Regions from separate parts of the Homo sapiens genome. Here all the other regions are reported to be linked to region 4. The links are microRNA targets in miRTarBase. Many come from high-throughput screens and were not tested one by one. Region 4 holds a microRNA gene; each other region holds the end of a gene's coding sequence.
The links. The annotated mature microRNA hsa-miR-103a-3p reads AGCAGCAUUGUACAGGGCUAUGA and lies in region 4 at 2,267-2,289, opposite strand. An mRNA with a match to its seed (bases 2 to 7 or 8) in the 3' UTR can be bound and repressed. Matches are read on the target gene's strand: a 7mer-m8 pairs with bases 2 to 8, a 7mer-A1 pairs with bases 2 to 7 and ends in A, and an 8mer does both.

Region 1 (4,226 bases), not on the chromosome of region 4:
GATCAATAAATCTGATATCCCAATCACCACTGAATTTATAAACCTCATTCGGCCTTCTGATTATCAAAGCTGAACAGGCTGCTCCAATTCCGGACACTTTTTTTGCAATTAGGAACACCCATTAGAGTTAGGTGGAATTGTACTAATACTCCTTTCTTCTCTTTAGGCAACACTTCCCCAGATCAAAAGGAGCCAACACCTTTCATCATCGAGTGGATCCCAGATATCCTTCCCCAATCTAAGATTGGCGAGCTGCGGATCAAGTTTGAGTATGGCCACCACCGGAATGGGCATGTGGCGGAGTACCAAGACCAGCGGCCCCCCTTGGACCAGCCCTTGGAACTGGCCCCTCTGACCACTATTACTTTCCCTTAAAGCAAAACAAGATAATAATCTTTTGCTGCTTAATTTGCACATCCCCACCCCTTGACAACTTTAAATGCTAGTTAGGCACTTAGATGGCCCTGTTCCTTGGTAAACTGCTCTTAGCTAAGATGCAAATTCTCAGTGCTTTCAAGTGGATTCTGTTGAAGAAAATCTCTTGTAAATAGCCTTTTTGATGCTGCTGTGTACAGTCTTCATTATGCATTGGGCAGTATTTCTGGCTAGAGTTTTAAAAGGAACAGAAAGAAAACCAGCTTATTTTCCTTCTTACGGACTCATCTTTAGCGTTTATTTCAACCTTTTGCTAATTCTCTGAGAAATCTGCAGCACTCAGCCATACACCAACAGTGTTGGAAAGTTAACACCCTGGTTAGGGCAGAATGTTAAAGACCATCTTGGCAGAGTTCCAGCCACGCTCTTTATTCTGTTCTCAAATAAAGCAGTGTCACTAGTTTTTCCTAATTATATCTCATGGTTGCCTGTTTATAAAATTATAAATTTCGGGGGGGGGAGGCGGGATTTAACTGATAGTGATACTGGAAAAAGAGATCCAGGTGTGTCCGGAATTGGTGGGTTCTTGGTCTCACTGACTTCAAGAATGAAGCCGCGGACCCTCGCGGTGAGTGTTACAGCTGTTAAGGTGGCGCGTCTGGTGTCTGCCCCTTCTGATGTTCAGATGCGTTCGGAGTTTCTTCCTTCTGGTGGGTTCGTGGTCTTGCTGGCTCAGGAGTGAAGCTGCAGACCTTCGCGGTGAGTGTTACAGCTCTTAAGGCAGCGCGTCTGGAGTTGTTCATTCCTCCCGGTGGGCTCGTGGTCTCGCTGGGCTAAGGAGTGAAGCTGCAGATCTTCGCGGTGAGTGTTACAGCTCATAAAAGCAGCATGGACCCAAAGAGTGAGAGCAGTAGCAAGATTTATTGCAAAGAGCGAAAGAACAAAGCTTCCACAGTGTGGAAGGGGACCCGAGCGGGTTGTCAATGCTGGCTCTGGCAGCCTGCTTTTATGCTCTTATCTGGCCCCACCCACATCCTGCTGATTGGTAGAGCCGAGTGGCCTGTTTTGTCAGGGTGCTGATTGGTGCGTTTACAATCCTTGAGCTAGATACAAAGGTTCTCCACGTCCCCATCAGATTAGTTAGATACAGAGTTTCCACACACAGGTTCTCCAAGGCCCCACCATAGCAGCTAGATACAGAGTGTCGATTGGTGCACTCACAAACCTTGAGCTAAACACAGGGTGCTGATTGGTGTGTTTACAAACCTTGAGCTAGATACAGAGTGCCGACTGGTGTATTTACAATCCTTGAGCTAGACATAAAGGTTCTCCACATCCTCACCAGAGCAGCTAGATACGGAGTGTTGATTGGTGCACTCACAAACCTTGAGCTAAACACAGGGTGCTGATTGGTGTAGTTACAATCCCTGAGCTAGATATAAAGACTCTCCACGTCCCCACCAGAGCAGCTAGATACAGAGTGTCGACTGGTGCACTCACAAACCTTGAGCTAAACACAGGGTGCTGATTGGTGTATTTACAATCCCTGAGCTAGATATAAAGACTCCACATTCCCCCCCAGACTCAGGAGCCCAGCTGGCTTCACCCAGTGGATCCCACACTGGGGCTGCAGGTGGAGCTGCCTGCCAGTCCTGCGCCATGCGCTCACATTCCTCAGCCCTTGGGTGGTCGATGGGACTGGGCACTGTGGAGCAGGGGGTGGTGCTCGTCAGGGAGGCTCGGGCCGCACAGGAGCCCATGGAGTGGGTGGAAGGCTCAGGCATGGCGGGCCGCAGGTCCTAAGCCCTGCCCCGCAGGAAGGCAGCTAAGGCCCGGCGAAAAATCGAGCGCAGCGCTGGTGGGCCAGCACTGCTGGGGGACCCAGTACACCCTCCGCAGCCACTGACCCAGGTGCTAAGTGCCCCATTGCCCGGGGCCAGCAGGGCTGGCTGGCTGCTCCGAGTGCGGGGCCCACCAAGTCCCCGCCCACCGGGAACTCCAGCTGGCCCGCAAGCGCCGCACACAGCCCAGGTTCCCGCTCGTGCCTCTCCCTCCACACCTCCCAGCCTTGGCCAGCCCAGAAAGGGGCTCCCACAGTGCAGTGGGGGGCTGAAGGGCTCCTCAAATGCCACCAAAGTGGGAGCCCAGGCAGGGGAGGTGCCGAGAGCAAGCGAGGGCTCTGAGGACTGCCAGCACGCTGTCACCTCTCACAGGTATCAAGGGAATATTGCTGTTTAAAACTAATGCCTGTAATAGCTTGTTCACTTCATACTTGTATCTCTATATATTCTCAGTTAGTAAAATTCAATTGCTGTTTCTGATTGAATGATCACAGAATAGAGATACTGAAAGACCCAGAAGTATAAGCCTATCTTTAAGGAGGAAAGAAGGGAATGAACATTTCTTGCATGCCTACTATGTGCCAGGTACTTTCTTTGTTTTTGTTTGTTTTTTGAGATGGAGTCTCACTGTGTCGCCAGGCTGGAGTGTAGTGGCGTGATCTCGGCTCACTGCAACCTCCGCCTCCTGGGTTCAAGCGATTCTCCTGCCTCAGCCTCCCAAGTAGCTGAGACTACAGGCACCCGCCACTATTCCCAGCTAATTTTTTTTATTTTTTTTTTGTATTTTTAGTAGAGACGGGGTTTCACTATGTTGGCCAGGCTGGTCTTGAACTCCTGACCTCGTGATCTGCCCTCCTCGACCTCCCAAAGTGCTGGGATTACAGGCGTGAGCCACCACGCTCGGCCATACCAGGTACTTTGAATTGCGAGTGACAGAAAGCCAGTTAACCAGCTTGGGCAAAATAGGTATGAATGACTGGCTTGTGGACACTAAAGCAGAGCTAGACAACCACACTGGGCTGGAGCTGATGTGGCTGGGCCTCGGGACCTGTGGAGCTAGGGTCCATCTGACCCATTTCTGCCTCTCTCTGGGGCTTCATTTGATCTCAGCACAGAGCAGCTCCCCTAGTAGGAATTCTGGCTCCTGAAGTGCCTGAATGTATGGCTTCCTCACTGGAGCAGGACTCACTGCTCCACTCTCTGATCCAAAAGGCAGAACCCCTCCCAGCCCCCAAAAAGGCACTGATTGGCCTAACAGAGGGGGAGACATTTTTGGTAAGAGAGGTACTATGCCTCTAAAAGAGAAGGAATAACCACATTGTGTTGTCTACCCTCTGGGATTGAGGGGCTGGTTTGTGTCAGCTCCTAAGTGCGTCAGACAATAGGGAAAATTGTTGAGAATCCAGGGAGGTGCACAGAGACCTAGAACTTGAATTGGGCTTCAAAGGAGAGGAAGGGTTTGGATAGGTGGAGAAGATAAAACTAGATGAGGCATGCCCGGCACAGTGGCTCATGCCTGTAATCCCAGCACTTTGGGAGGCTGAGGTGGGCAGATCACAAGATCAAGAGATTGAGACCATCCTGGCCAACATGGTGAAACCCCGTCTCTACTAAAAATACAAAAATTAGCCAGGCGTGTTGGCGCGTGCCTGTAGTCCCAGCTACTCGGGAGGCTGAGGCAGGAGAATCGCTTGAACCTGGGAGGCAGAGGTTGCAGTGAGCCAAGATCGCACCACTGCACTCCACCCTGGCCATAGAGGCGAGACTCATCTCAAAAAAAAAAAAAAACAAACAAACAAAAACTAGATAAGGCAGAGGCTTGCCTGAAGAGCAGGAACACCCAAGGAAAGACCGTGGTTGGCCATCCTGAGAAATCCTTCAACCTGAAAACTTGGAGGACATCAGTCACAGCTTTTTCACAAAACACACCTGTGGGTGACAGGCAGATGCCTGCTCTAGTAATACCTGAATGACTCAGAAGAACCACAGGGGCCACAAAACACACGGGTG
Region 2 (4,000 bases), not on the chromosome of region 4:
TGGCTAGTGGCCACCCTATTGGATGGTGCAGTTCCAGATGTCCCAAGCATGTAGGTGTGATGACAATCACTCAAGGTCAGATTTTGGGGGGCACCCGCAAACTGCTTTAACTACTTCCTAATCATTTCTATAGTTAAAAGTTGGGGCTAGCTCCAGAAAGGAACCCTTCTTCCTTTTCCCTCCCCGATGTGATGGTGACAGGATTTCCTCTATCTCTCTAGGTCTTCTATGGCAACTCGGACCGCACCTCCACGGTTCAGAACCTGCTGCGGCCCCCCATCATCTCCCGCTTCATCCGCCTCATCCCGCTGGGCTGGCACGTCCGCATTGCCATCCGGATGGAGCTGCTGGAGTGCGTCAGCAAGTGTGCCTGATGCCTGCCTCAGCTCGGCGCCTGCCAGGGGGTGACTGGCACAGAGCGGGCCGTAGGGGACCCCCTCACACACCACCGAGATGGACAGGGCTATATTTCGCAAAGCAATTGTAACTGCAGTGCTGGGTAGATAATTTTTTTTTTTTTAAGATATAGCTTTCTGATTTCAATGAAATAAAAATGAACTTATTCCCCACTCAGGGCCAGAGAAAGTCAGAACAAAGAAAATGTCCCCGAAACGAATTTTCTTACAAAAGCCTAAGTAGCAGGGGTAATTTTCTGCTCATTTTTTGTCTCAGTGATACTGTGAAAGGTGCAGTCTCAGGGGAACACAAAGCAGCCCTGATAATTTGAAAATTCATTTGCTTTACCACATTCAAGACAGAAACATACAGTTTCCTAAAGCCTGGCTTTGAATGCAGAAGGGAGCAGCTCCTCCTAGTTAAGTTTCCACTAAATCATCGCCAAAGAGGACTTCAGAGCCCTGGGGAGGCAGCTGAGGGTCTCAAGGGTGACTGGGTGGCAGGGATGAGTGCGGTGGGTGAGAATCCCGGTGCCCTGAGAGGCTATACGTGACAAATGACCAAAAGCCCAAGGTAGGGGAGTTTCCTCTGCTCACAGTTCTTACCTTCAAGGCGGATCTGGGCTTCCACCCTCATGAACACAGGGATTGGGGAGGGACCAGAGCGCCCAATACACACAGCTCCATTATGCAATCCATTCCAGCAAATTCCCCGTGTCTGTGGTCACCATTTAGGTGATCATACAGGACAGGCTGCACATCTCAGTATATGTAGGGACCCCAAATGACCACAACACAGTACAATTGCCCTTTACCTAGGGCTACCATTTCCTAGCAAACCAAACATAGTTCGAGAACAGCTGGCCCAGGAGCTACCACTGGCTACTCAGAGGAGGCTCATTAGCTGGCTACATGCTTCGCAGGAAGTGGGAAGGACTCACATCATAAAAAGGACCATGTAGCTTTTTCCCTGAAAGCTTCTCACCCTCCACCCTCTGCCTTGCAATACGCAAACTGCGCCTGCTCCTGAAAAGCTCTCTGGGAAGGAATGGGCCTGGCTTTCCGTTCCTGGAGGCGGCGCCTTAGATTGGGAGGCCTCATTGGCCACTTAGAGCGCAGCCTGAGTTTCCAGGCCCCTTCCTGGGAGAGGCTGTTAACACGGGGGAGGGGCAGGAGAGGGATATGGAGAGCAGGTGGTGGAATCAGAGGACGAGGCTGCTCTAAAGACTGTTCTGGCCCCAGACACAGGGTAGTCTTTGCTAGCAGCTCATTTCCGAGTTACTTTTCATTTTCAAATGCCAAGGCAAGTGACTAGACTCGCGCTAATACAGTGCTGGACAACACATTCACCTTTTCTGTGAACAGGCAGCCTTCTAAAAGCCCCAAACATCCTTCTTGATGCTTTGGGGGCTCAATTATTTTATATCCAACCCAGCATCTTTCTAGTCCCTATGCTGTATGCTTGAACTTCGGAAAATGCTTTTCCCCGCCCAATCTTCTCTCAAATATAAACACATCACACAGGGTGTTGGGGGTGGGGGGGGGGGGTGGGGGGACTTATCCCTGGCCTTAGGACACAGGACAAATCTATTTTGGATAGAAATGCCTGAACAGAGACCCTTATTTGGAAAGGTGAATTAACTTTGGTCACGACATGGACTGTCAGACAAAATGGCAGTATCCTAAGAGTTAAGGCACATCAAACACAGGAGTCGAGAGAGTGCAGTTCAGGGAAAAAGGAGAGGAGGAAACAGTGAGGCAGGGAGAAAGGCTTTCCAAATAAGAGTTCATGTTGGAAACTTTTGTCACGGCTTTATTGAGATTAAGTTCACATACAATTTGTATCCATTTAAAGTGTACAATTTGATGACTTTTGGTATATTCAGAGTTGTGCAACCATTATCACTAGATCAATTTTAGAAAGTTTATCACCCCAAAGAGAAATCCTGCACCCATCAGCCAACACTCCCCAACCCATCGGCCACCCCAAGCCCTCTGCAACCACGAATCGACTGTCTCTGTAGATTGGCCTTCTGGACGTTCTACATAAATGAAATCATATAGTATGTGGTATTTCGTGACTGGCTTCTTTCACTTAGCATAGTGTTTTAAAGTTCATCCACGTTATAACATGTGTATCACTATGTCACTTGTCACTCCTTTTTATTGCTGAACATCATTGTTCAGTATCATGTCAAGAGCACATTGTTATTTATCCATTCATCCATTGATGGATATTTGGGTTTCCACTCTTTAGCTATTATGAATAATGCTGCTATGAACATTTGTGTATAAGTTTTTGTGCGGATGTGTGTTTTCATTTATCTTGGGTATATACTTAGGAGTAAAACTGCTGGGACACACAGTCACTCTTGTTTAATCTTTGGAGGAACTATTATCCCAAGTGGCTGCATCATTTTACATTTCCACCAGCAATGTAGGAGGCTTCCACTTTCTCCACATCCTCAGCAACACTTGTTACTGTCCATCTTTGACTATACCCATAATGTGTGAAGTTGCATCTCAACTGTGGTTTTGATTTGCATTTCCCTAGTGACTAATGATGTTGAGCATCTTTTCATGTGTTTACTGGCCATTTGTACATCTTTGGATAAAGGTTTTTCAGATCCTCTGCCCATTTTAAATCGGCTTACAACTTACTGAGTTTAAGAATTCTTTGTATATTCTAATTCCCTTATTGGATATGATTTGCAAATATTTTCTCCCATTCTGTGGATCTTTTTAACCCTCTCGATAGAGTCCTCTTAAGCACAAAATTTTAAATATTTGATGAAGTCCAATTTATTTTTCTCTTTGCTTGTGCCTTTGGTGTCATATCTGAGAAACCACTGCCAAATCCAAGGTCATGAAGATTTACCCCTATGTTTTCTTCTATGAGTTTTATAGTTCTACCTCTTACAGTTAGATCTTTGTTCCATTTTGAGTTAATTTTTGTATATGGTGTGAAATAGGAGTCCAACGTCATTCTTTTGCATGTGGATATCCAGTTGTCCCACCACTATTTGCTGAAAAGACTATTCTTTCCCCCATTGAATGATCTTGGCACCCTTGTCAAAAAACAATTGACCATAAATGTGAGAGGGTTTATTTCTGGACTCCAAATTCTATTACCTCACTTTCTTCATTATTGTAGCTTTGTAGTAAGTTTTGAAATTGGGGCATGTGAGTCCTCCAACTTTGCTCTTCGGGATTGTTTTGGCTATTCTGGGTTCCTTGAATTTCCATATGAATTATAACTAACTTGTCCATCATTGCAAAGAAGCCAGCTGGGATTTCACATTGGAAACTGCTCAATACTTCAGAATTTAATAAACAGTAAGATATACGATTCATAAGACATTTATCTGCAGATAATTTGCTTACAACAGCATATTATTTACTTCATTCAATTCATGACAGAATGTATAAAAACTAAAACTTTTATTGAGGGAAATCTGAAGCCTAATAGAATCTTGCTGTCAAACACACAAACTATGCTTCCAAGTATCATTTCTTTTGTGGGGGAAACTTTCAATTAAAAATTATACATAGTGTAGGAAAAACTCACTCTTACCTTATTTTAACATATTTACTTTTATTTTTAG
Region 3 (4,000 bases), not on the chromosome of region 4:
CCAGATCAAGAGGAAACAGAAATAAACTTTACCCAAAAACTGATAGATTTGGAGCATCTACTGTTTGAGAGACATAAACAAGAAGAACAGGACAGGTTATTGGCATTACAACTTCAGAAGGAGGTGGATAAAGAGCAAATGGTGCCAAACCGGCAAAAAGGATCCCCAGATGAGTATCACTTACGCGCTACATCCTCCCCTCCAGACAAAGTGCTAAATGGACAGAGGAAGAATCCCAAAGATGGGAACTTCAAAAGGCAAACTCACACAAAGCATCCAACACCAGAGAGAGGCTCAAGGGACAAAAATAGGCAAGTGTCTTTAAAGATGCAGTTGAAGCAGTCAGTTAATAGAAGAAAGATGCCAAATTCTACTAGAGATCACTGTAAGGTATCCAAAAGTGCTCACTCCCTACAGCCTAGCATTTCACAGAAAAGTGTTTTTCAGATGTTTCAGAGATGCACAAAGTAAGGCCTGGTAAAGGGAGTGCTTTGTGATCTAGTAAAGCTGGAATGTGAAGCTCTTTCCTATCATGGAATCTTCATCCATGTGTCATTCATGCTGCTCTCTAGGCACACTCATTGTCCTTAATGAAGGTCTGTGTGATTGTAAGGACTGCATAGACACATGAGCTTCTGCACAGCTCAGCGGTAAGCAGGGGTCCCCTGTCGTTTCCCTTCTTAATAACAGATGTGTATTAAGCTTTACAATTCTTAGAGATATCTTAAGCTTTGGCCAACTCCAGGAAATCTTCAAGTGCCATTGTCTTTCCAAAAACTGCATGTTTTATGGCCTTTGCTCACCTTTTTGTCGTGACTGGTAATCAAAGCAAGATTATACTATTCTGAGTGATTAAGGAACCCATGCAGGGTTTAAAATCCATTTTCTTGCTATTGTCCAATGTTTACAGAGTACTCAAAAGGTTTTCCTAAAGTAATCTAATTTCCATCTCCAATTTAATTCAATTTTCAGCATTGTAGCATTTCCTTTGGTGTTTGTTTTTTTTTTTTAGACGGAGTTTCAAAATTTGGATTCATATTCATATGTGGGAAATCCCAGATTTTTTTTTTTTTTTTTTTTTTTTTTTTTTTTTGGAGACAGAGTCTTGCTCTGTCACGCAGGCTGGTGTGCAATGGCGCGATCTCAGCTCACTGCAACCTCCGCCTCCCGAGTTCAAGCGATTCTTCTGCCTCAGCCTCCCGAGTAGCTGGGATCATAGGCATGTGCCACTACACCCAGCTACCCAGCTAATTTTTTTTTTTTTTTGTACTTTTAGTAGAGATGGGATTTCACCATGTTGGCCAGGCTGGTCTTGAACTCCTGTCCTCAGGTGATCCACCTGCTTCGGCCTCCCAGAGTGCTGGGATTATAGGCGTGAGCCACCACGCCCGGCCTGTTTCCTTTGGTTTAAAGTGGATTCGAATCAGTGTTAAATCAGAAAATCAGGGTTTTCTAGGAAATTGGGAATTAGTTGCCAGAAAGGAAACTGAACTATGCAGAAGGAGTTAAGAGCTGGGATGAGGCTGGATGGGGTGACTGACAGTCCAGATCATTGAAACAGATTGGGTCGTCGGAAACTGGTCCAGATGAGGCTGGATGGGGTGACTGACAGTCTGGATCATTGAAACTGATTAGGTCGTCAGAAACGGGTCCAGACGAGGATGAGGCTGAGGCTGGATGGGGTGACTGACAGTCTGGATCATTGAAACTGATTGGGTGGTTGGTCAGAAACGGGTCCAGATGAGGATGAGGCTGAGGCTGGATGGGGTGACTGACAGTCTGGATCATTGAAACTGATTGGGTGGTTGGTCAGAAACGGGTCCAGATGAGGATGAGGCTGGATGGGGTGACTGACAGTCTGGATCATTGAAACTGATTGGGTCGTCAGAAACTGGTCCAGATGAGGCTGGGTGGGGTGACTGACAGTTTGGATCATTGAAACTGATTGGGTGGTCAGAAACTGGTCCAGATGAGGATGTGGCTGGATGGGGTGACTGACAGTCTGGATCATTGAAACTGATTGGGTGGTCAGAAACTGGTCCAGATGAGGATGTGGCTGGATGGGGTGACTGACAGTCTGGATCATTGAAACTGATTGGGTGGTGAGAAATGGGTCCAGATGAGGATGAGGCTGGATGGGGTGACTGACAGTCTGGATCATTGAAACTGATTGGGTGGTGAGAAATGGGTCCAGATGAGGATGAGGCTGGATGGGGTGACTGACAGTCTGGATCATTGAAACTGGTCCACTATGACGCAGCAGGGGCAGTTTGGCAGAGCATCCTCTTCCCTTGTCCTTGTGAAAGAACACAGGAAACATTTGGGTTTTACAGCTTTTCACACCCTACTATCAGGCATCAGAATCAAAATTAGTTACTAAATTGGGTGAATTTTTGGAAACCTGCATTTCTATGCATCTGCTATTCCAGAAAAAAATGGGAATGTATTACAGGAGAGTTACCTCACAGTGTCTTATGTTGTGGAACCTGAAACATAACCACGTGTTTTCTTATATGATCATTTGTGTTGATACTGCTTTTATTTGAGTTTATGAACAGAAATAGAAAGTATGGTGCTTGGGTTTTGCCCTTTCTTACTCCTGAAAGTTAAATCAGAAGACACTGATTTCATTTTGTGAAATTTAGCTCAGAGACTATTGATCTTTTGTTTCATTAATATGAACAACTATTAGTAAAAAATAGCTTTAACAGCATTTCTGCTGATATCTAGTAATCTATTCTTTTAATGTGAAAATAAGATAAAATGTCCTGGAGCTAATTCTAGCTTAAATTTGCCAGTATTTCTGTATGTCATTAAGTTTTTTTCCTCTAAGGTTGGTAATAGAATTTTGTTAATCTTTGCATACCTGATGGCATCTATGTCAATGCTGATTGGGTAATTATAAATTCTGTGCTAATTTAAAACTTAATTTGCCTCTTAAGGTGATTGTCCTCTGAGTAATGATTGTAGTTAAATGAAGTATAGCTTGCAACTATACTATCACATGGGTCGTTAAGTAAAAATAAATAAACCAAATTTGTCTGAGACAGGCTAAGATCAATCTTCTCATCAAACCAATTTTTCTCTAAGAGCAATTTCACTTTCAGTTTTAGGGTGGACATTCTTGAATGCCTCAAATTAAACGTTATCTATTTAATCTTCCTGGAATAGTCTGTGACCAAAAAGGAGGGTGTGATATATTTAGGTGTAAATATATCACATATATGGTGTGATATATTTGGGATTTATATATTCAGCTCATTCTCTGTGAAGAAGTCTTCCTGACTAAAATTGGTTTCAAGATAAACTAATTTCTGTTAGTATTTCTACTCTGCCTACCATGTATGCCTTTTTGTTAGAAACTAATAAATGTATCAGTCACTAGCAGGTACTGGTCCTTTTTCCTCTCATTTTTGTGGAAAGGATATGCAAACACTGAATTTCTCAGGGAGTACTAAGGCTGTGCAGAGGCTGAGAATCTGAAAAATAAAATACTAAAAATAAAAATGGATTATTATGTGTATTTTACCACAACTTAAAAATATGTAAAAATCAGCTACATGAAAATTAAAAGTTCTGCATAACAAAAACTACCATCAAGGGAAATTGGAAGCTGTGGCAAACTTGGGAAGAAATAGTTGCAGTTCATCACAAAGAGCTAATTTCCTTTATGTAAAGTATCCTCCAGTTCATTAAGAAAAGACCAATAACTCGGCCGTGCATGGTGGCTCACACCTGTAATCCCAGCACTTTGGGAGGCCGAGGCAGGCAGATCACCTGAAGTCAGGAGTTTGAAACCAGCCTGGCCAACATGGGGAAACGCCGTCTCTACTAAAAATACAAAAATTAGCCGGGTGTGGTGGCGTGTGCCTGTAATCCCAACTATTCGGGAGGCTGAGACAGAGAATTGCTTGAACCCAGGAGGCGGAAGTTGCAGTGAGCCAAGATTGTGCCACTGCACTCCAGCCTGGGTGACAGACTGGAGACTCCGTCTCAAAAA
Region 4 (4,226 bases):
ATTTCCTTTAATTCATATAGACTGTTAAACTAAATATGCAATACAATTCTGAAAAATGTTCATAATAACAGTATCTAAAATCCAAGAACAGTTGAAAGAATAGTTCAACTGCCCCACAACCAAGAAGGGAAGAAAGAACCCCTACACGCCTTTCCATACCTCTGCTTCTTTTTCCCCAAATAGGAAAAATAAGAGTGCTTTCCAAGACAGGCTATGAGGTTGAGCAATTTGATTCTTTTCCATTTCATCATTTCCAGCCTGTCTACAATTGTACTTAAGTTCTTATGATAGTATGGTTCTAGTCTGAGAGGTTTACTCATCTATTCATTTTTACAACATGCATCTTAAATAACTGGCACAAGAATTACAACAATATATAAAAACTGGCACTGAAAAAAATGAAAAAACCAGAACCCAGAGTAATGACACAGTCAGTGCAATAGAAAAAATATAGAGGATAGTTCAGACAAAAATATGGCATCAGAAATATAGGGGAATGTTCAAGGGTTTTTCTCTAAAATTCCTTAAGCTTACAATTAAATTAACCCAAAATTTACCTTGCATTAGTATCAGGGAAGAAACAGCTTTCAAATGTTACGAAATTAAACTACCAAAAAAGTTCAGGCACAGTGGTTCACACCTGTAATCCTGGAACTTTGGGAGGCTGAGGCTGGCAGATCACTTAAGGTCAGGAGTTTGAGACCAGACCAGCTTGGCCAACATGGTGAAACCCCATTTCTACTGAAAGTACAAAAATTAGCAGGGTGTGGGGGCGCACACTTGTAATCCCAGCTACTTAAGAGACTGAGGTGGGAGGACTGCTTGAACCCAGGAGGCGGAGGCTGCAGTGAGCCCCAAGACTGTGCCACGCACTCCAACCTAGGTGACAGAGCGAGACTCCGTCTCAAAAAAACAAAAAACAAAAGAAACACTGCAGCCCATTTCACCTCCACCCTCTACCTCAAGTTCCATGACAGTGTGACCCACAAGCCCTCTGTGTACATAATATACCACAACGAACAAGTCAGCTTACCTCGTGTTCCGAAAAAAGTGCTTTCAACTGCCCCTTGGACCAATAATCCAAAGCATATGCCAAAAGCCGCATGGCGATCGTATTAATTCTCAAGAAATTTCCAACAAATACCACCTGGTTAATGTTCTGAGCACACCAAAAAAAGGCAATTAGTTTTCATCTTAATTTCTATTTTCTCATAAAAGCTACCCCAAATACAGCACCATGTGCATAGCTCTTAGCAACAATTTGACTGCTGATCAAATTTAGTCCAGTTGGTCCAGGGCTACTTAAACTTGATCCCCAGACAACTCTGGACCCACTGCAAAGCATGCTAGATAATGTCACAGGAGAAGAAAACAGATTAGGAAAAACATTTGTATTAAATCTGACCAACAATAACTAGTTTTGAATACAATGTTTTATACAGATAAGTTAAAATAAACAAAAAAAAACAGTATGACTCCAATCCAAAAGGACAGTGACACAAACAGGCAAAGTATACAAGCAATATAACAGGCAGCGAAAAATTCAAACCACTAGTCATCAAACAAAAGTAAAATTTTAGACCTATTAACCTCGCAAAAAAAAGCAACTGAAATTCCACCACCACCATCAGTAGTTGTAGTAAAATTAATCCACTCATTCACCGCTAAAGATGATCTAAATTGGTGCAGCCCTTGTGCAAAGCATCATGACGATAAATGTCAAAATTCATGAGCATGATCATTTCTGTAGACCAGAAATCTCACTCCTAAGCCCCATATCAAGAATAAAATTCAACCAAAGAATAACTTCATGCTTAAAAATGCTTACTGCCGAGTTATGAGCAAGCAACCAAATGCCAAGCTCTGTTATTTGATATAAAAGAACTTGATCAAATAAATATACAACCATGAAATGTATATTTAAGTATAAAATACAAATTGTGGTATGCACACCAACTAAAATTTCTGAAAATACGTAAGCACAGGAAAGGGAACATACAATAAAGAAAAAAGAAGTTATGATATTCCAACAAATGTTTAATTACTTGATGCTGATACAGTATTTTTTTAATTTAAAATGAGACAAATCCTTTGTGTCTTTTGAGGTTTCCTTTTAAGCTACATGCCTATTATTATCTAAAGAATAACTTCTTAAAAATAAAAATAAAAGAATAATTTAACAACTATACACACAGGGACAAGCCATAAGCTGCACCAACTGGATCCTAGATCCTCTTTTCCCAAGGGCAGCCCATTCTTGGTTCTTTCATAGCCCTGTACAATGCTGCTTGACCTGAATGCTACAAGGCAGCACTGTAAAGAAGCTGAAAGCACAAAGACGCAGCTCTGCTGAGGTGGGGGAGCCAAGGAGGGCACCCCTCGGCCTGCTCAGTCTTCTCCCAGCTTCCGTGACTTCCTCTGGATTCCTCCCTAGGGCCTCTAGAGCTCAGCAGTGAGTGTGGAGTCTACATTCAGCATCGTTATCCATCATCACCCCCAACAGTCCCCAATATCTGGAACACTGGCTACCTTCCACTCTTCCTCTACTTTCTCCTCAAAAGATGTCATTTTACCTCTAGACAAGTAGCAATGTTTATCTTCAGTTTAAAAAAAAAAAAAAGAAGATTAATCTGTATTTGAAGAGTTTTAACTTCGTGCTAAAACAAACCCCACCCCAAATGACTACATTTAGGCACTGTTCTGAGAAAACAGACGTGATGGGGCCCACTTAAGTTCAGTATTTTCCTTAGAGCAATTAAAGAAATCCATGTCCCCTTACTTCATTAAGGGCACACATTCTTGCTATTGAGCCAATGTTGTTGGTGATGGTGATCAAAGTCGCTCTGGCCAGGTCCTCTTTACTGACAGCCTCTCGCTTCTCCTTGCTCATCATGTTTCCAAAGCTGTGATGGGGGAAAAAAAATCCCATTGCTAAACCAACAGCAACAAAGCCCAACAGAACTTGAATGTTACTTTATTGAAATAAAATTAGCTTTTAGGGCAACATTGTTGAAATCTTCAAACCTTTTATTTTGCAATGGAGCATCTGTTCAAAGAGAAATGCAAACTTCAAACAGAGCCCTCCAACATTCTAAATGAGCAGACAGCTTTCCCTGCGGTTTCTACTGAAATCTAGCTTGGATACCAGATATTCACATATTCAGTTAGAATCTCATCAGATGCACTGGAAGGCACCATTGCTCCTGCAACCAGACAGTTCCAGGACAACACCTCTAACAGCAATTCATCTCAACTGCACAGCTGTTCCACTCAGATGGCCACATGCACATCTGGTAAACTGCTCTATCAGAGCAGAGTAAAGCACAGACAGCTGAGTCCCAGAGTGAGCTGCTTAAGAATTTCAGGTTTCCCTAGAAGATAAAGTACTTCAAAGTACATGCTCAGCAGAACTGCTACAATAATTTTCCAATCAGAAAAGGAAGTGATGACCAACGAGCAAATGTTACAAACAGAAAATCAACAGCATTGACCAAGTGCCTAAAACTTAGTAAACAAGCATGTATACATATGATTTTTCTATTAGTAAAAGCCATGTGCCCCAATATACGAAAAACAATTGTACTTCTAAACGATCTCAAAATGGAGACAATGATTTCATTTATAATAGCATTAGAGAATAAAACACTTACGGATATATCTAACAAAAGTATTAACACCTGTACAATAAAATCTACAAAACACTGCTGAAAGAAAGCAAAGATCTAAATCAATGGGAAGACATTCCATCTTTTTGGATCAGAAGACTTTGTATTAGGATGGCCAAAAGATTCAATGTAATCTCTATTAAAATCCCAGTTGTCTTATTTACAGACCTTGCCAAGTTAACCCTACAATTCATATTCTCAAGGTACCCAGAATAGCCAAAATAATCTCGAAAAAAGAACAAGTTGGATGACTCACACTTTCTTACTTCAGAACTTAATACAACGCTACAGTATCAAGGCAGTATGGTACTGGTATAAAAACAGACATATATATCAATGGAACATAACTTAAGAGTCCAGGAGTAAACCCAAACATCTATGGTCAACTAATTTTTGACAAAGGGGCCAAGAGAATTTAACAGGGAAAGAATCATCTTTTCAACAAATGGTACTAGGACAACTGGATATCCACACGCAAAAAGAAATGAACTTGGAGCTCTACCTCACACCATACACAAAAACTTACTCAAAATGGATCAAATATAAGAGCTAAATATAAGA
Region 5 (4,226 bases), not on the chromosome of region 4:
GAGGGCAAGATTCACTTGAGGCCAGGAGTTCAAGACCAGCCTGGCCAACATGGCGAAACCCAGTCTTTACTAAAAATACAAAAATTAGCCGATGTGGTGGCACATGCCTGTAATCCCAGCTACTTGGGAGATTGAGGCACGGGAATCGCTTGAACCCAGGAAGCGGAGGTTGCAGCGAGCTGAGATTGTGCCACTGCATTCCAGCCTGGGCAACAGAGCAAGACTCTTGCCTCCAAAAAAAAAAAAAAAAAAAAAGTTTAAAGATGAAAACAGGGGCCAGGTGCAGTGGCTCATGTCTGTAATCCTAGCACTTTTGGGAGGTCTCAGGAGTTTGAGACCAGCCTGGGCAACATAGCAAAACCCCATCTCTACTAAAAAAATACAAAGATTAGCCAGCCGTAGTGGTGGGCGCCTGTAATCCCAGCTAATCAGGAGGCCGAGGCCTGAGAATCGCTTGAATCCAGGAGGTGGAGGTTGCAGTGAGCCGAGATTGCGCCATTGCACTCCAGTCTGGATGACAGAGTGAGACTTTGTCTCAAAAAAAAAAAAAAAAAAAAAAAGAATGAAAACAGGAGATAGAAACATGAGTGATCAACTAGTCCAGTTCTCTCTCACAAATGCACCTTAGAAGATGCCAGAAACCCGCTCATGGCACCCAGAGGGTGGTGGTGCTGGGCCTTCAGTCCAGTTTGTCTGAGGCCCAAGCCCCAACCTCATCACTCTCCTCAATCAAGAGGCCTGAAGATAGAGATGAAAAGCCATCCACAAACCCCAATCTTCACCACACACAATAGGTTGCATCTCTTCATCCTTTTGTCTTGGAAAGAAGTTTACAATTCGGAAAGTGTTGGACACCCTGGTATGAACCCCCATTCCAGCCAGGAGGGGAGGGCACAGCACCTGCATGGTTAGGGACAAGTTCAAGGCATCAGAGCTCCTCCAGCCTCTTGCCAGATGCCCTCACATCCTCGCCTTCTCAGAGGGTAACTCAGGACTCTCCCAGCAGCCTTGACAACTCCTACTACTGCCACCACTCCGAGGCTACTGGGTTCGAGTCCATCCCTACCCCGCATGGCCAGAACCCTGGCCTTTCTCTATGCTGCCGGCCTGACGCCAGTTGGCAGCAGGAAGAACAAGCCAAGCAGATCCACTGCAGACCACCGAGTTCATTTCATGAAAACTCAGCACACAAGAAGTCAAGTCCAACTGCAGTTACAGATCCTCTGTTTTTAAAAAGGGTTCTTCCTAGGACTCCACTAAAAAGACCTGCTTTCCCAGATCTAAAGTATGGCCTGGCATGCAGGCCAAGTGCTCAGGATACAGGGAGGGCACGTTTGTTGAGCGGGCAACTGCCTGCCGAGGTCCTTGGCCACATAAGCACACCTGTCCACCGAGCGGTGCAGAAGCTGCCTGTGTCGCCTCCTCCTGAACCACCTCCTTGCTATGTTCCCGACACCTGACCGGCCCTGAGCCTGATGGCTCACGATAAAATACTGATAGGATTAATAGTCAGCCTTGTTGATCAGCTCCCAGAATGGGGAGGGTGCCTGGCTAGCTTTGATCTCTAAGTCCATTGGCCCCACGTGGACATTCCAGGTCTATGAAACCATCTGCTGAACGGCTTTCATGTCGGAGACACCTGTTGAAACTCCTGGGAGGGCCTCCTCTCATCCCCTGGTCCCCTGCACCTACCTGGCCGGACTGGAGACAATCTGCCCAGGAGGAAGAGGCTGAATGGAGGTGTTACAGGGAAGAGGACCCCCAAAGGAGATGTCATCTACAGCCTGCTCCAAGGCAAGAAAAGCCTCAGCCAGTAGCCAGGTGATTTGAATAAATGGCTTTACAAAACCTCCAGGTGGGTCCAGATCAGGTCAGGGCTCAAGGTCAGAGACGGGCTTGGGCAAGGTAGGAAATCAAGCACAGATGTCTACACACAAAAGGGCCCCTCGGCCCTGTTCCCACCCTGGGGATTCAAAGACGAGGCCAGTGTTTTGAAAAATATAAAATTTTAATAAAGGCTACATCTCTTAATTACAATAATTATTGTACCAAGTAATTTTCCTTAAATGAACTCTTTATAATGCATAATTTACAGTATAAGTAGAACAAAATGTCATGACAAAAGTCATTGAGTACAAGACTTGTAATAAAAAGGCATAAAATATATTTATACATAAACCCCTTTCAAAAAACAAGGGAAAGCTTGAGCCCTCAATATAGGGCGACACACGGAGCGGGTGACCGTGCAGGTACAGGTACTGTACTGATTTAAAGTCAAGCACTAGAGATAGTGGATTAATACTCTTTTGCCGTACACTATATACAGATGTATAGTACAAGTAACAATGGCAAACAGAATGTACAGATTAACTTAACACAAAAACCCGAACATCAAAATGAAGGTGTGTGGAGGAAAGGTGCTGCTGGGTCTCCCTACAACTGTTCATTTCTTTGTGGGGCAGGGGGTAGTTCCTGAATGGCTGTGGTCCAATGACTAATGTAAAACAAAAACAGAAACAAAAAAAACAAGGAACTGTCATTTCCACGAAAGCACAGCGGCAGTGATTCTAGCAGGCCTCAGGGCCCTGGGCCTGGGGAGGCTACATGAGGGGGAGCCTCAGTCACAGGATCAACCTGGGGCCCGAAGGAGCAGGGTTCCCTGCCTCTCCCTCTGCAACAGATCATCCCATCCAACACAACCCCCAAAATGTTGATGATGACGCAACATGGTCAACCCTCAAGACCTTTAAGACAAAACAGAGCAGCATAGGAAAAAAAAAAACAAAACGCACCAATTTCTGCATGTGTCAATGGTAGGGCACCATTTTAAAAAGTCTGTCTAAAACAGTCTGTCTTCACTTGGAGGGACGTAGTGCAAAGCATAATTCCTCTGTTAGTGAAGAAACCATGAACGCACTCCTAGCTCAACTCCTAAGTTTAGTCAGAACAATTAAAACTTCCTGTCTCCCCCTTCCAAGTTTAAAGCAGCATATCCATAAACTGGGGATGGGGGAAATCAACTGTTCTATAAATATCAGTAAGGATTCCTGTTCAGGTAAGCTATACACAGTTTCTCTTAGTTTATGGATTTCAGATCCCTAGGAAGTCATATATTATGTATGGCAGTCTCTCAAATACAGGCAGCATCTTCAATAGCCAAGAGTGGTCATGTTTTTAATAAATAGTTCAGGCTTTTCTTATCTCAGTCAGTACCCAGCTCATGAATCATGAAAATCAACCTCCCCCCGCCCTCCCGAAGGCCCACTGGCCGATTCTTCCTTAGACTTTGTCTTCTTCATTGGTTTAATTTTCCTTCAAAATGTTTTGTCGCAGTTGCTCACAGCCAAGACAGTTCACAAGAGCTTCGGGCTCCAACAGTTCACCAAAGCCAGACCCCAGGGCTCAATCGATCCGCTCCACTTTGCCCAGAATCCGGCCTTCATACATCGGGAGCACCGTCTCATCCTCCCAGATCTCCTCAAACACCGCTCCACAGGCAAACTCATCGCTTGCTTTTTTGAAGTAATACCTTAAAAGGAAAACCAAAAAAGCTTCTTGGTAAACTGCATTTTCCACATTGTTGAAAAGAAAAGCATACCAACATGGAGGACTGAGGTATCCTAGGAATTTGCTATGGCAGGTGTGCCTGTACACTGTTGCGCACATCTGCTTTAAGACGGCAGCTGGGACTGGCCACACCACAAGAAGCAGGTGGGCCGAGATGATGAAGGCCAGGCACCCACTGAGCAGCAGCCTGGGCTGGGCCTGCCACCTGCAATCTTCAACCCAGCACCTCTGCTGTCTCCTGACACGTATACACTGTGAAAAGCAGAGCTGCTTTCCCCCCGCCAACCTTTTTCAGCAGTGGGGTGGGGGAGGGAAGGGAAGGACAAATGCCTGCAGTTCCTTTGCAGCAGGAGCCAAGCAGGTCCTTCAAAGAGACTCCAGACTATCTCCAGGTTCAGCCATCCTGAACCCATCACACCTGGAGAGCCGGAACCTGCCGAAGTCTGTAAAAGGCTGACTTCCAGATGGTTTAGCAGTCCAAAGGCCTCTCGGCCTTCCCATCCTCCAGGTCCCAAGTGCAACACTCCTGGATGGCCCTGGCACAGCCACACAGGAGGCAAGCCAGCCCAGCGCAGCTTCCCAGGGCCGAACAGACGGCACTGGCCCCATGATGCCCTCCCCTCTTCTCCCCATTTCCAGGCCTCTTCTCCCATCCCATC
Region 6 (4,226 bases), not on the chromosome of region 4:
ATTGTGTGATTTTTACCTTGGTCCCTCTTCAGCCTTCTAAGAGAGGGCGCTTTCAAGGTCATTGTGCCTTTAAGGGAACCTTCTCCCCAGTCCCTCTGGATGCTGGTGCTTAAAGCTATAAGAAGCGGGCCAGACCCTTTTAAACCTATCTGGAGTGCTGCAGGAAGAGAAGTAAATGCACATCGCCCTGGTGTGTGCCTCGCAACACTCACTGCAGTAGGTTTGTTTTTCCAAAAAGAAATTTAATTTAACCCAAGTGTACACTGTCACACTGTAAACACATGGGGCACCAAAAGGGTGGCTTATTGAATTTAATGCCCTGGCAAAGGTCACCTTTTAGAAAAAGCCAAAAATGGCTGGAATCTTTCCTGATAGCTCTTCAGTCAGGCTTTGGATGCAGGCAGATGTGTTTATTTTTTCAGAGGGAGTTCCTGAGGACCCATCTCAAGTTCAGGCGCTGGGCATCCCCCTCCCATCGCCCTCTTGTGCTCTCAGAGACCTCCCTCCTCCTCCTCCTGGGAGGTCACTGTCCCTGGTCACCCAGGTGGGCCCCTGAGCCAAGCAAACTCCCTAAAGCTGGCGGTCTGGGAGGGAGGGCCTGGGACCCCCACTGCCCGCCCCTCCAGGCTAGAGTGTGTGGTGCTTTTCTTATAACTAACACTGCCTTTCTCTGCCCATTTCCCTCAAAGGATGGCATGAACTGGGTCTGCAAAAATGTCAATGCAAAGAAGAAATAAAATCTAGACGAATGGAGATGCAGGAGCTGCGGGAGCCGAATTCGGTCCTGAAAAACACTAATTTGCTGCTTTCTGACCAAATGTTTTTCCATCTGTGTACAGCTCCAGCTGTTTGAAGAGAGGGAACAACACGGTTTAGAAAGAATCCCCATTCCAGCAGTAGATTTAACTGATCTCTGAGGTTCAGTATCATTTTTCAAATAAAGGAATTATATTATTTCCTCTGCATAATTGAAATAGTATTAAATGTCTCAAAGCACATGATTAGAAAATGAGATCTTTTAAATGAGCAAGAGATTGCATTGCAGTTTAGACAATTCCAGTGGGCTTTTTTTTCCTCTCAAAAAAAAAAAAAGAAAAAGAAAAAGAGGAAGAAGCAGCTTTGCTGAGTTCATTTATTTACTGACCCGTCCCTTGCATTCCCTCCATGGTTTTGAAACCACAGACAGTGTTTGCTGGTGCTGTCAGTGATTTTTACCGTCACTAGCCCAGCCAGGCTTCAGTCTGTCCGACAGGAAGCTGCTGGGTGGGGGTGGGGGGAGAAAAGGCAGATAATTAAACCATCTCATCGTCTTGCAGGTCGGAGACTACGTATGTAATCCTCACTCTTTGGACAGAAAAAAAAAAAAAAGTCTTTCTTGCAGACAAGTCACTACAGAAACATACCCCATCCCACCCACCCCTGCCTCTGCCCCAGCCAGCCACACAGAGAAGCAAATTCTTATGACTTTTGACTGTAATGACATCTGGAATGTAAGGAGAGGTGGGAGGTTTAATTCCAGAAAAATTACAAGGTCCTTAAAAAGCTCTCACATCGAGGGCTCAGGCTAGCGTAAACAGGCTTTCTCCAGCTCAGTGGAGCAGTGAGCAGCCGACTCTGAGATTAGCTGGCTTCTCCACGGCCGTCCTATAGACAGGATTTCTAAAGCTCAAAGAATTCTGTGTTTAAACGATCACAATAGGCCGCTGCTATCAGATTTTAGAAATAAATGCAGCTTTACCATGAACCTGCTCCACTGAGAAAAGCCAGGCAGATCGATTTTTAGATCAATTTTTACAGTGCTGGCAACTTGGTGGTGTGGGATGCTCCTGGATGGAGAGGGTTTGCTGCTGGGGAGGACATGGGTGTGTGTGTGACTGCAGGGGTCGTGTCCAAGGAATCAAGAGTCACCCCAGCTGCTGGGCTCCTCTGCCTCTCTGCAGCAGAATGTCCGTCCTCTGTTGATTGATTGGAGAGGAATAGCAGAACATTTCTCCTGCCCCTCGTTGCAAAACGAGCTTGTTTCCCTGAACCTCAGAAATCCTCAGCTTCAAACATGGGGAAACAGGCCAGAGCATTGCCCGGCTCCTGAATTAAACTCTGTTCTGGTGCCTGAGCTCAGGGGTTTTCAGAGAATGAATAAGAGACTGTCCAGTGACTGGTGGGTCCCTGGGGGCCAGCTGCCTTCTCATCCTGGGAGGTGGCCCTTCCCAAGCCCATCAGGGCGTGTGAGCAGACTGAAGGGGCCGCTGCAGCCCCTGGCCCTCAATACCCAGCTGCTTCTGGCTAAGAGTGCAGCAGAGACTGAGGCATAGCCAGCTTCAAAAGCGATCTGACATGAAAGTCATTAACAAAGCCAGCCGTGAAAAGGTGCCCCAGAGTTGCTGTGGACAGACCTGTAAGGACTTGCAAAACAAAAGAAAGTGAGGGGTTTTTTTAACCTCAGAGCTAGCTGCTCTCTGCAGCCTCCTCCACTGGCTTCTCTGGCTCACCCAAGCTCTCCCTTACAGAGGCAACACAGAATTATAAGGAATCAGAAATCCCCCTTCTACCAGGCTGCAAATGTGGCTCTAGCACTTGCAAATTGTTTTTTCTTCCGAATAGTTCAGCAGGGACAAGTTATCTGAGGGGCAAAATGCCTGCTTGGAGGTCTGCAATTTTGGAACACTGCAGTATGGAACTTTGGCATTGGAGGGTCTGTAAAATATTTTTGTTCTTTTACCACCAACTTAGGGGACTGTTTTAAAGAGCCATCCCAAGGCCTCTCCTAGCAGGCAGAAGCCACTCCTCTGATAACGGCCTCTGTAAATGTTCTGATTTGCTCTCAGCTGCAGAGACACAGAGACACTGCAGATGTCACACGCTTTCATCTTCCCTTTGAGCCCTTTTGAACCCTCCTGGGGCTCTGGGGTAGATGAGAGAAGCCTGAAAAAGGCAGAGTTTGAAAGCTCCCATTTAAAAACAAAATACTTTTTAAAGCCCTCTTGCCTCTTCCCTGCCCACTCCTGCCCCCTGACCAGAAGACAGAATTTGAAGCTGGAAAGGGAAGACCCCTTTTCCCCTCCTCCTGTCCCCAGTGAGTCTTAGCGAGACTTTTGCCCTGCGCACAATTGCATCTGAATGTGCGGGGGAGAGGGCTGGGGGCCGGAGGGCAGGCAAGGCCTGGGGGGTGCTCGTGATATGTGCTCAAGCCAGTTGTGGGAAAAACTCGAGTCCTCCCCTCCTCCCGACCTACCCCGTGTGGCTGCTTTTGGCTGGATTCCCTGCACCCAGTGCAACACACCCTTTCCCCTTCACTCTCCCTTGGTTACTATGGAAACAAGGGTGTCATTGATGTGGGCTGAGCTGGGGAACATGTCGGTGCACAGCTGAAAGTCAGCGATTATGCCGGCGGTTAGAAATGTGCCAGGGTTAAAGGAGTCCGCAGCTCCCACGGCTGCTGGGAGGACATGGTCCTGCCCCCTTCCTTCCTCCCTCCCTCCGTCTCCACTTCTCTCTCCTTGCTTTTGACAAATTTCTTTATTCCCCTCTGGACTAAAGTAGTGGCTATTTTTGTGCCACTCTGCGCCCCACCCTCACTGTTGGCCGCTCCTTATCCGGCCTGGCCTGGAGGGTGACACCATGTCACCCTCACCAGGACTCGTCTCTCCATTCCCGTCAGAGTTTGCTTTGATTTCCCTTTCCTTTCCTTCTCGGGGACCAGTTCTTACTTCCTTTTATTTTTAGCTCTGCACTCCATGTGGTTTCAGGGTTCAGTCTGATCCATCAAAAGGTTCTTTTTTTATAATCCCTTTTGAAAATGATAATCAAAGGAAGAGATGTGGTGTTTGGTCATGTGGAAAACTCAATGTATAATTTAGACGTCTGTCAAAAATCCGACAAATAAAATTTAGCTGGAACGAAGGCAGCCTGGAATGTGTTGTGTTCTTTGCTGAAGCTCAGAGAGGGCCTGAAATGTGTTTGTCCTTTCAGGGGTTAGCTTTCTTCAAGAGGTTTTTTCCAGAAGGATATATATATAAAATAGGATACCAACAATAGCAATAATAGCCCTTCATTAAGCCCCTCCTACGTGCCGGGCACTTCAGATACATCGTGGTGAGCATTAGTCCCCCTTTGCAGCAGAGGACATTGAGACATTTGCCCCAGTTAAGGAATTTGCCTGAAATCACAGAGCCTTTAAGTGCAGGTGGGGCCTGGAGCCTGGGTCTCAATGCTCAGCAAGCTGCCGC
Region 7 (4,226 bases), not on the chromosome of region 4:
ATACTTTGATGGATAACTTAAATCTTTGCAATATTATTTTTTTAAACCAGAAAATACCCCTTATAAACCAAATAAATGCTGAGTAACATAGGAAAGGTTAAAAAATAAGTCTCAAAGGTTTGCTTTGAGGACTAACCAAGGTAATACATATAAAGCACCTAGCCAATGCTTTGCACACTAGCCCATTAAGGATCAATTGTTCCCATTCCAATCTGTTAAGATTTTAATCCAACAGAAACCCTTGGTCTGAATGGTTTAAAAGTAGTCTCGGCCCCCAACAAGGAGTCTGATAATAAACTGGTCTCTCACTCACCTCCAAGCTGACCTTCCTGTTGTTCAAGGAAGTTTCCGGTTGCAGCTTCTGCGTTGATTCTTCTTCCTCAGGTCTGTCTGACTTGTATTAATGCCAAGTGCATCACAGAGGAACATAAGACTCACACATTGGGATTTTGTTTACTTTTCATTTATTCACATTTCATGGATTGTTACACTTCCTCGATGGGAGCATTCAAAAACTAATACAAGCTGAGATTATATTGTCTGACAATTCAAGTATTTTAGTTTTAGAAAACAATTTCCTATTTAAAGTAAAAAGCAAACAATTTATCCATCTGATTGCTAAGAAGTTTTACATCTCCATTACAATTGTGTCTGCATCAAACGGAGAGTCCTTCGTCCTCAGTATGATTGTTACTGGCTGAGAACATACGGTGACCTGTGTTCTGAGTGCCTGCTTGGAAAAGACCTCCCTGTCATCTGCCATACTACGGGACAAATCAGTATCTACTCAAATTCCCACTTCCAGAATGAGAGGACTCATCAGGGGTTTAGGAGTTTGCAAAGCCTTCAAAATGTATCGTGCTTGAATTTTGACTCTTCTGAAATAGAATAACTGACAAATGCTCAAAAAACAAACTTGTTTAACTTTTACTGAAAAGGCTCTCAGTGAAAACTTGTTTTGAACTCTACTAGTAAGGTAGAATATTAGTTTTTCTTCCCCTCCACACCAGAAAAGGCAGTTTTCTCTTTTTTTTTTTTTTGGCATGCAGCATATATAAAATGTGATCTAGAATTGAAATTGTAAAACAGAATAATCCTCTTAAAGAAAATCAGCCTATGAACAGTCAGACTTGTCCTTCCATGGAAAACATAATCTAAACTTCTTTAAAAACTGGCCATATTTTTTCAGTCTGTAATTCGAATAATGAAGATGGCATAACAAATTTTTTTGCTTACTAGGAATGCGCAAAAGGATGAGATGGATACACAGGTTTTAAAAAAAAAAAAAAAAAGGCCACTGGGATATTTAGTATTTGTCCAGATGCAAAACAATTTCAGAATAACAAAATACACACCTTGCTTTAGGCCACGTATATGATACACTTCATAGATTCTCAAACAAAAGATGAAAATTTCAGTCCACATTAAACATTTTAAAGCATAACTTCTAATATTTTGTTAAAAATAAGTCAAACTAAACGCATAAATCAGAATTACCTGTTAACATAGTGGGGAAAGTAGGGAAGCCCTCCAGGGGCCCCGTGCCCCAAGTAAAAGACAAGGAGTTAAATTTTACAATGAAATCCACGTATACTCAGGCTCTTTACACTAATAATCAAAGTGGAGACCAACCAGTTCCTAAAGCATAAAAGAGTGATTTTAAGAAAATATCACATTTTGAGTTACGGTATATTCATCACATTTTTCCCTGTAATTTTCACTTTAACAGTGATAGTCTTAGCAGCAAAAATTTGCTGGGAATGTTAGGAAAAAAGGAAGCCACACATACCTACTAATTTAAAAATATATAAACTATTTTTTACAGAAGGGCAGGTTTAAAAGAAAATCCAATCATGATCTTTTCATGCCATTTTTTGTCAACTTTCCATACACACGCAGACGCTAACAAAGTACTGTGTCATATACACTGAAGTGTCCTGAAGATGCCTGTGAGCTGCTGATTCCAGCTGGTACCAGGGAAGCATGTGTGGCTAAGTTGCAACAAACTTAAATTTGTTCCCCTTAGTTCTTCATCTTTTTAAAAGCTGAATAAACTTAATGTCAATCGGGTGGGGCCGGTATTAACAGCATCAACCGCTTGCTTACTATGAATCATCCGCAACAGAAACCCACGTGCATTCTCCATTCTTAAAAAGTCAGTGTAAAACTAACGGCCACTTCCTCCCTAGGTGCCTACTATCGCTATGTCTGACAGCATCTGTAACAGGACAAGCTCACCTCTCTCTACACGGATTCATCCAAAGCCACACACTAGGCCAAATTCTCCCAGTGGAATCAAAACACTGGAAGTAGAGCAAGAACCTCATGCCAACATTGGCCCAATCACACCTCAGTGACTTAGGAGTTCATCATATTTGATCATAAAATTGCTCCCGGCGCCAAACCTTACACCTAAAGACTGTAGTTTTAAAAAGCCACTGTACCGTCCACAATTATTCTGACCACTCTTTTCTAAATGGAGAATGTGCTACGCACTGAAGATCAGAACACACACGCGGGAGCCCTTGGGCACTGACCCTGAGCCTGTACACAAGATCAGCTGGTACTAGTCTCAAATGATTCATGAGGACTCAGTGGAAATTTAAACATTCAATTCTGTGTATCATTCATGTGCCCAGAGTCTTCAAAGAATGCTCGTGTTAGTTACCTGACACCTCTGGAGAAGTGACAGGGATATTCGTGTGAATAACCATGGCTCCCTTCCAGACAGACATATGGAATCTTACTCTTAAAAAAGTAAAGATATTTCAGATATCAAATGTATTATAATATACTGCGGTCTAAAGTTAAAGGCAAAGTTTACACACGATTTTCTCTTCCATGACTTTATTACATGTTTCCTAGTGAATTCACACGGCTCGTGTGTCAAAGCTCCCAGGCACGTCACTTGGTCACAGTTTTCATGTGCGTGGGGTTGATCATGGTACAAATGCCTATGCGCATCTTTTTCTCGGATGGTCTCATTTGACTTTCATTTCGTAAGGGTTCACTCTCCATGGTGTAGATGATAAGCTACCACATTTGTGCTTTTAAACCCATTCCTGGCAATCCCCCTTTATCTTCATTTTGTCTTTAGGGGGATAAAGAAGTAACACTACCTCATGAATAGAAACTATGAAGCCAAAAAACTCCTTCACAAGCTGTTCATTTCTTTTTAGAATGAAAATGCAGGTCCTGAATTCTCGTGAAGCAGCCCACAGGGTTACAGGCCAATGATTCGAACGCTGAGGTGAACACTTAGTACTCGCATTTGAGCTTCAAAGTAAAAATAAAGCAGAGGACAAACGCCTGTCACAGCGTGGCAGCCCGGTTCATTTGGTAACAGAACAAGTCTCACACGTCGGCTGAGCCCACCGGAGAGAAGCACACAGGCCAGCTTCCTTCTGAACACAGCCAGGCACCTGTTCAAAAGCCTCTCTCGTGGTGGCGGTGGACCCCAAAACCCACGGGTTGGAAGAGCCTTTGGGAAAGCAAATTGATACCCTGATTGCAGTCCTTGAAGAAATCACTTAGGGTTAGTTTAATAAACGAACATTAAAAAATCTTCCAAAAATTGCATTCAAATGTATTTTACACTTTAGGCAGTTCTTAAGAAGGGAGAGTGCAGTTTCTTGACACTTAACATTTAAAGGTTTTATTGGCCACATTAATCTTCCTCACAAAAGTTTTAAGTTATCTATAAGTTCTTAGAATGTCAAAGAAGAGAAGAAAAACTGACTAACTTTAAGGGGCGGTGGAAGCAGCAGCAACTTGGCAATAATTCTGCAGCCGACTTTGCGTGTTCAGGCATCCTTTTTCTCCAGTAAAATTTTGTGCAACTCGTCTGCATCCTCGCTGGTTTTTACCCGAATCAACATGGTGACTGGCATGGTGGCATTCTTCTCGTCAATTGGTGGATTTGGAACACAGACGATAAGAACGTTATTCTTCCCTGTTCGCGTACATGGCATATTGGGTGGAATCAGAACGTTCAGCAATATGTTGCCTGCATTCAAACAAACAAAACCCATCAAAATTATAGAAGCTATAGCTCCACCAAAGGAGTCTGTAATATGCTAAACATTAAATGCTGAAATAACTTAATACATCTAAGACAGGGAGCCAACAGGACAGCACAAAATCAGGACTGGTTCCCTGAGAACTGGGAGGCCTCGGGGAGCACTTGCCCTCACTGTGAGGAGTGGCCTTCCGTCCTCCCTCCAGCC

Region 1: the mRNA of C2orf42 is a reported target of hsa-miR-103a-3p. Seed matches in the 3' UTR shown: 7mer-m8 at 560-566.
Region 2: the mRNA of RS1 is a reported target of hsa-miR-103a-3p. Seed matches in the 3' UTR shown: 7mer-m8 at 2,665-2,671.
Region 3: the mRNA of RNF168 is a reported target of hsa-miR-103a-3p. Seed matches in the 3' UTR shown: 7mer-m8 at 559-565.
Region 5: miRTarBase lists AXIN2 as a target of hsa-miR-103a-3p. Seed matches in the 3' UTR shown: 7mer-m8 at 3,141-3,147, 7mer-m8 at 2,985-2,991 and 7mer-m8 at 2,762-2,768.
Region 6: miRTarBase lists ARL3 as a target of hsa-miR-103a-3p. The part of its 3' UTR that is shown has no 7-base or 8-base seed match.
Region 7: miRTarBase lists NUP50 as a target of hsa-miR-103a-3p. Seed matches in the 3' UTR shown: 8mer at 1,045-1,052.

What each region holds. Positions count from the first base shown.
Region 1 is chr2:70,146,505-70,150,730 of GRCh38, reverse strand. C2orf42 (chromosome 2 open reading frame 42) reads left to right here. Exons shown (of 10, transcript NM_017880.3): 10 at 167-846. The coding sequence ends at 375. Among named protein-coding and RNA genes, the nearest start is that of LINC01816, 23 kb to the right of the region's middle. RefSeq lists an enhancer at 1,269-1,798.
Region 2 is chrX:18,638,378-18,642,377 of GRCh38, reverse strand. It overlaps RS1 (retinoschisin 1), which reads left to right. Exons shown (of 6, transcript NM_000330.4): 6 at 222-2,690. The coding sequence ends at 374. It overlaps CDKL5 (cyclin dependent kinase like 5), which reads right to left. Exons shown (of 18, transcript NM_001323289.2): 18 at 2,182-4,000. Among named protein-coding and RNA genes, the nearest start is that of RS1, 32 kb to the left of the region's middle. RefSeq lists a silencer at 1,545-1,714.
Region 3 is chr3:196,468,290-196,472,289 of GRCh38, reverse strand. It overlaps RNF168 (ring finger protein 168), which reads left to right. Exons shown (of 6, transcript NM_152617.4): 6 at 1-3,507. The coding sequence ends at 471. Among named protein-coding and RNA genes, the nearest start is that of RNF168, 33 kb to the left of the region's middle. RefSeq lists a silencer at 1,907-2,083.
Region 4 is chr20:3,915,604-3,919,829 of GRCh38, reverse strand. It overlaps MIR103A2 (microRNA 103a-2), which reads right to left and starts at 2,336; the gene lies at 2,259-2,336. PANK2 (pantothenate kinase 2) reads right to left here. Exons shown (of 7, transcript NM_001386393.1): 5 at 2,780-2,903; 6 at 1,034-1,159. MIR103B2 (microRNA 103b-2) reads left to right here and starts at 2,267; the gene lies at 2,267-2,328.
Region 5 is chr17:65,526,574-65,530,799 of GRCh38, forward strand. It overlaps AXIN2 (axin 2), which reads right to left. Exons shown (of 11, transcript NM_004655.4): 11 at 1,990-3,529. The coding sequence ends at 3,403. Among named protein-coding and RNA genes, the nearest start is that of AXIN2, 33 kb to the right of the region's middle. RefSeq lists enhancers at 1,338-1,632, 3,455-3,969, 3,970-4,226.
Region 6 is chr10:102,673,405-102,677,630 of GRCh38, reverse strand. It overlaps ARL3 (ARF like GTPase 3), which reads left to right. Exons shown (of 6, transcript NM_004311.4): 6 at 690-3,900. The coding sequence ends at 737. Among named protein-coding and RNA genes, the nearest start is that of TRIM8, 31 kb to the right of the region's middle. RefSeq lists an enhancer at 3,277-3,826.
Region 7 is chr22:45,184,233-45,188,458 of GRCh38, reverse strand. It overlaps NUP50 (nucleoporin 50), which reads right to left. Exons shown (of 8, transcript NM_007172.4): 8 at 442-4,006. The coding sequence ends at 3,804. The region is part of intron 3 of LOC105373064 (a long non-coding RNA gene); the gene reads left to right. Among named protein-coding and RNA genes, the nearest start is that of MIR1249, 15 kb to the left of the region's middle.